Linked DNA regions of Homo sapiens. The protein of the gene in region 2 interacts with the protein of the main gene of each other region in a pairwise test. Each region holds a gene or a part of one and is shown on either strand. Other genes may lie near its edges. The genes, in order: SMAD9 and CLPB.

Region 1 (3,245 bases), on a different chromosome or scaffold from region 2:
ACAATATTAAAAACCTGTTCTTATTTTACTTTAGATGAGGGAGGAAAATCCCCCAAATTTCTAGGTACTTTCATATATATACTTGCCATGCACTAAACACTGCATTGCTTGGAAAAATATTTCACACCCTCTTTAAAAATGTACAATTTAAGATGGCAGTTATGCTTGTAACAGACAGCACTTCAGTAATCCAAGAAGTTTCTTCATTTATACATTTTATCTCAACTCTTTCTAGCATTAGTGCACATGGTAGTTTTTCTAATTAAATTGTATTCAAGGTAGAAATGATCATGTGAGAAAGATATATGATTGAGCTACTACTGTCACCTCTTACAGTTACTAGTGTTAGCTAATAGAAACTTTCATATATACACATAGAAAAGAATTATTACATTTTACATTGAAAAATGTAATATATGGCCCATGTAGTGTATAGAAAAATCTGTAGTTTATTGGTTCATCAACTATGTATTGTGCACCTACCTATGGGTGTCAGGTACAATGTTAGGTACTGTAGAATCAAATGTAAATAAGAGACAGTCCCAGCCCTCAGGGAGCCGAGAACCTAATAGTGAATCTGTTTGTACAGACATCTTCATGTTTCAGAACTTTTAAAACAAAACAAAATAATGTAATCTATCATCTTTTGCTTGAAAGAATGTGATTGATTTCTTATCTCTGTTTTGAAATTATTTCCTTACTCTTCTGCAAAGTCAGGTAATGGATTCCTTGTATAAATGCTACTTTTCTTCCATGTCTCAAAGTTGTTTTTTTTCCTCCCCTTTCTTCCCTGTTTTCCAATAATTCTCCATGTCCCCTTTTCTTAGAAAAGGCATTAATATGGTGAATCTTGTATGGGAACCATTCCATGGGAGAACTTCAACACAGTTTTTGCTCCAGAGATCAAACATAGCTTTCGTGATCTCTCTACCAGCTATCTAACTTATCCTCTGGTAATCTTTTTTTTTTTTTTTTTTTTTTTGAGATGGAGTCTCGCTGTGTCACCAGGCCAGAGTGCAGTGGCGTGATCTTGGCTCACTGCAACCTCTGCCTCCCGGGTTCGAGTGATTCTCCTGCCTCAGCCTCCCAAGTAGTTGGGACTACAGGCTACCACGCCCAGCTAATTTTTATATTTTTAGTAGAGACGGGGTTTCACCATGGTAGCCAGAATGGTCTCTATCTCTTGACCTTGTGATCCGCCCGCCTCAGCCTCCCAAAGTGCTGGGATTACAGGCGTGAGCCACTGCGCCCGGCTTCCTCTGGTAATCTTACACCTTTACAGAATTAATCTAAACTGGTGGCTCATAAATGACATTAAAAACAAAAAAAAAATCTGGATGCAGTGGCTCATTCCTATAGTCCCAGCACTTTGGGAGGCCAAGGCGGGAGGATCATCTGAGCCCAGGAGTTTGGGGCTGTAGTGAACTATGATCATACAACTTCATTCTAGCCTGGGTGACAAAGTGACACCCTGTCTCTAAACAAAAATCAAGAAACAAAAAACTTGTATTTCCCTGCAGCTTTGGGAAGCCAGAACACAATATTGCAGTGAATCTGAATTTTCTGTGACAAATAAATTATTAAATTGGCACATATGATCATCACCAGTCATGTCTCATCAAAAGCCTTTATTATGATGCTTGTACATTTTGAAGAATTTAGAATTAATGAGAAGTTAACCCTTTAGTCATTGTAACACAATCATATTTTAATCAGCTTTTTCTTTTGCTACCAAGAGTTTCAAAAAATAAATGCAGTATTTGATTTCAGGCTGCTAAATGGGCTCATTTAGCATTCATTCCTTGATGTAGACATTAAAAAAAAAACTGAATAGCATTCTTTCCAGGATAACTAATAAAGCAGACATGCTAAGCCTATAAATACATCAGCACTGCAGCACACGTTTAAGGTTGCCACGGACAAGGATCACACAATAGAGAACACTGTAGTAACATTTCGGTCTGCTCACAAGACCCAGAACATTGATCAGTTTTTGTTGTTGGTTTATTATTTTTCTGTTAAAAAATTGTGAAAAGTTTGTTTTAGCTAGATGATATTTTAATAGCTGCGAGTGCTTTGGAACTATAAAGATGTCACTACTTAACACATATACCTTATGTTTTGTTTTGTTTTGTTTTACACTCAGTATAAATCAGGAGAAGTTAGCCAACCATCTAGCATTTAGAATCCTCTTTTTTATTGTCTTCTAAGGATATGGATGTTCCCATAACAGCAACAAAACAGCAACAAAAACATTTCATAAATATCACTTGATAGACTGTAAGCACCTGCTTAACTTTGTGTCCCAAATATTTAGTGTGTATATATATATATATATATACACACACACACACATATATATTCAACAAATAAAGCAAAATATAACATGCATTTCACATTTTGTCTTTCCCTGTTACGATTTTAATAGCAGAACTGTATGACAAGTTTAGGTGATCCTAGCATATGTTAAATTCAAATTAATGTAAAACAGATTAACAACAACAAAGAAACTGTCTATTTGAGTGAAGTCATGCTTTCTATTATAATAACTTGGCTTCGGTTATCCATCAAATGCACACTTATACTGTTATCTGATTGTTTATAATAAAGAATACTGTACTTATATGTCTTTTGGCTCATTTTTCCTGTAAACCTCATAGAAGATTCACTGTATGTGGGTCTGCAGCTCCTTAAGTCAATTAATTTTAAACCATTCTATTTTGAAAATGGGATGTTAAATTCCACATGCTATAGAGAAATTAGGTAGTGGTTTTGAATTAAACACCTTAGAATAACCGTCATGAAGTATAGTTCTTGAAGATACTTCACAGTAACTTTAGAAAGGATATATGTAGAACCTTTTTCTGGATAGTAGCAAATACGTGATATTGCAGTATATAGGAAAGAATGAGCACTTTCATTATTGTAAACATCTGTACATTGCTACAGATTGCCTATTAGAAAGGTGCTAAAAGGCAACTGGTGAGGGAAAACTAAGATGAAATCCAAAGAAATATGAACACATCATCTAAAAATGTAAATTCTCAATTCCTTTCATCTAAATTTCCTTCTAATCTTAAAAAGGAAGGGGAAACTCTATTACCTATAAGCAGCTTTCTTATTTACTTGATCAGAGTTGTCAATTTTTTTAACGAAATGGAGCTCTGTATTCAAAAAAAGTGTTTTGTGGAACTCCAAAATAAAAACACATGAAAGATATGCCTGTTTAGATCCTGGTGGGGACC
Region 2 (3,606 bases):
AATGCAGCAAGGTGAGACCCAGATTTCTTTTGTTTTGTTTTGTTTTTTGAGACAGAGTCTTGCTCTGTCGCCCAGGCTGGAGTGCGGTGGTGCAATCTTGGCTCACTGCAACCTCCACCTCCAGTTCAAGCAGGTCTCATGCCTCAGCCTCCTCAGTAGCTGGGACTACAGGCATATGCCACCATACCCAGCTAATTTTTTTTGTATTTTTAGTAAAGACGGGGTTTCACCATGTTTGCCAGGCTAGTCTCAAACTCCTGGTCTCAAGTGATCCACCCACCTTGGCCTCCCAGAGTGCTGAGATTACAAGCGTCAACGACTGTACCCGGCCCCAAATTCCTTATTGAGGATCCTAGAATACATGAGACCAGACTTGGAAATGAAAGTGTAACATGTTTATTGTTCAAAAAGAAAAACTCAAAGGTGTGTAGTGATTTTAAAATTTAGGGAAATTCCTCAATATAGTGAAAGAAGAAAAACAAGAAAGAAATTTAGGAAAGAAACACACTTAAACCATAAAAAATAGAAAATGGACCAATAAAGATAAAAGCTAAACTTAACAAGGTAGGAAAAAGAAAAAGAATAAATTAAAAAATTCTTTGAAAGCACCAATAAAATAGATAAAACCTCCTGAGCCTGATAAAAGGGGAAAGGAGCCAAAAAAATTAACAAAATTAGGCATGAGAAATTAGACATAACCATATATATTGAGGAATTGAGAAGAAGAATAGAACTCTATGGCAACAAATTTGAAATCAGAGGAAATGGATAATTTCCCAGCAAACACTGATCCTAGAAATAGTTTGAATAGGCCAGTTGGTTACCCAAGAAGAAACTGGAAAGGTGGTTAAAATTTTATCCTTTTTGAGCACCATAAGATGGTGAAAAATAAATAAAATTTTATCCTTGTAAAAGATTGATGGCCAGGCATGGTGGTGGCCCACACCTGTAATCCTAGCACTTTGGAAGGCCAAGGCAGGCAGATCACTTGAGCCCCGGAGTCTGAGACCAGCCTGGGCAACATGGCAAGACCCCACCTCTACTAAAAATACCAAAATTAGCCAGGCATGATGGTGCTTGCCTGTAGTCAACAGCTACTTGGGAGGCTGAGGTGGGGAAGATGGTTTAAGCCCAGGAGGCAGAGGTTGCAGTGAGCCAAGACTGTGCTGCTGCACTCCAGCCTGGGTGACAGAGCGAGACCATGTCCCAAAAATAAAAAATTGTTTTTAATTAAACTTTTTAATTGAAAAATATATGGGAAATTGTACAAATCACAAGTATGCAGCTCAGTGAATGATTACAAAGTAAACACACTCCTATAGCCATCACTCAACCCCCAAAATAGATGAGTTTTAACTATTATTGTACTCAAACCTGATAAAGTGCCAGAAAGAATGCTATAGCCTAATCTCACCTATGGCCATAGATGCAAAAATCCCAAATAAAATCAAGTTGAATTGCACACTCTGATTACATAAGGTTTATTTTAGCAATGCAAGGCTCAGTGTCAGGAAATTTATTAATTTATTACATCAAGAACTTAAATGTTATTTAAATGTCTAGAGAGTGCTAGTGTTGTTAAATTTTCTCATTTTGATAATTATACTATGATTACAGAAGAGAACGTCCTTGTTTTCAGAAAATGTAAGTATTTAGAGGTTAAAGGTAAACCTCTAATTTGGTTTGCCAGTATTTCAGATAACTACACACACACACACACACACACACACACACACGGAATGATAAAGCAAAAAGTAAGGTGTTGGCAAGGCATGGTGGCTCACACCTGTAATTCCAACACTTTGGGAGGCCCAGGCAGGTGGATCACCTAGGTCTGGAGTTCGAGACCAGCCTGGACAACATGGTGAAACCCCTCTTTATTAAAGTACAAAAATTAGCCGGACATAGTGGCACATGCCGGTAATTCCAGCTATTTGGGAGGCTGAGGCACAGGAATCCCTTGAACCTGGAGGCAGAGGTTGTAGTGAGCCTACATCACACCACTGCACTCCAGCCTGGATGACAGAGTGAGACTGTCTCAAAAACAAACAAAAAAAAGATGTTAACATTTGGGAAATCTGAGGGAATGATGTACATGAATTCTTTGTATTGTTTTTGCAACTTTTAAGTATAAAGTTATTTCAGGCCAGGCATGGTAGTGCATGCCTGTATACCCAGCTACTCGAGGCTGAGGTGGAAGATTCCTTGAGTCTAGGAGTATGAGGTTACAGTGAGCTATGATCATGCCACTGCACTCCAGGCTGGGTGGCAGAGTGACACCCTATCTCTTAAAAAAAAAAAAAAAAAAAAAAACAGGTGCAGTATCTCACACCTGTAATCTCAACAGAACACTGAGGGGTCAAGGCAGGTGGACTGCTTGAGCCCAGGAGTTCAAGACCAGCCTGAGCAACATGGTGAAACCCCATCTCTGCAAAAAATTAGCTGGTTGTGGTGGCATCCACCTGTGGTCTCAGCTACTTGGGAGGCTGAGGTGGGAATATAACTGGAGCTCAGGAGGTGGAGGTTGCTGTGAGATGAGATCGTGCCACTGCACTCCAGCCTATCTCCAAAAAAAAAAAAAAGGCTATAGTAGAAGCCTATTAGCATGGATAAGTGTCTGAATAAAAGATAACTGTACAAAAATCAATTGTTTTTTCTGTATTCTAGCAATAATCAACTAGAAACAGTATCAAAAGAAAAACATTCCATTTACAATTGCAACAAATAGGTATATATATATTTGCTCTTCTACACATAACCTATTTCTGGAAGGGAGCAGAACTGGGCAATTCAGGGACAGCAATGGAAGGGGAACACTGCTATGTTATTTTAAATACTTTTTAGTAAGCTTTGAACCATATTAATGTATTACCTGTTCAAAATTATACTTAATAAATTTAACAAGAAAACCATATTGAAGGGCATAAAAATAAGACCTGACAAGTGAAAAAACATCAAGTTTTAGAAAGGATGATTTAATACTAAAATATACATTTCTTAATATATAACTTAATGTAAACCTAATAAATAATTTAATACAAATCTAATTGACAGCACTTTTAATTAAATAATGTTAAGGTCATACTGCACTACTATGTCCAGAGGCGATGCTACATGGAGCTACTGTTTTCTGGGTCTAGCCTCTCAGGAAATAGTCATTACTACTTTTGCAATCCCATCTTGACAGTATGCAAAAATTAGGGAAAATGTAAATTTATTATTAACACACACCCTAAATACAATTATGAGAGAAAGGAAAGAGAAGGGTTACTGTCTGTGGCTGGAGTATAGTAGCTGTGTATGAGTGTGGAGAAGAGAGGAAATTGGTGGAAAATGAAGCTAGAGAGGCAAGTTTCCTGATTTCAAAGTGCCCTGAATGCCATGCTAAGGGAATGAAATGACCAGATTTGTGTTTTAAAAGACCCTTTGTTTGCATTGTGTAGAATGATTTGGGATGACTTCTGACCAATATACAACAGAGAGTAATTTCAGGCAAACTCTCTTCCACCTCAAACAGAAATATTTAATATATGTAATAAGACAAGAAAGTTTAATACACAACTAGACTTGAAACCAAGAATGGGAAATCCCAGCCATGTACAGTGG

The links.
Region 1: the proteins of CLPB (region 2) and SMAD9 interact in a two-hybrid assay, tested with the Homo sapiens proteins (one large-scale study listed by BioGRID and IntAct).

Annotation. Positions count from the first base shown.
Region 1 is NC_000013.11:36,844,211-36,847,455, reverse strand, and holds the end of SMAD9 (mothers against decapentaplegic homolog 9), read left to right. Parts: 3' UTR 1-2,625; downstream 2,626-3,245. UniProt on the Homo sapiens protein: Transcriptional modulator activated by BMP (bone morphogenetic proteins) type 1 receptor kinase. SMAD9 is a receptor-regulated SMAD (R-SMAD).
Region 2 is NC_000011.10:72,284,931-72,288,536, reverse strand, and holds the end of CLPB (mitochondrial disaggregase), read left to right. Parts: 3' UTR 1-3,042; downstream 3,043-3,606. UniProt on the Homo sapiens protein: Functions as a regulatory ATPase and participates in secretion/protein trafficking process. Has ATP-dependent protein disaggregase activity and is required to maintain the solubility of key mitochondrial proteins.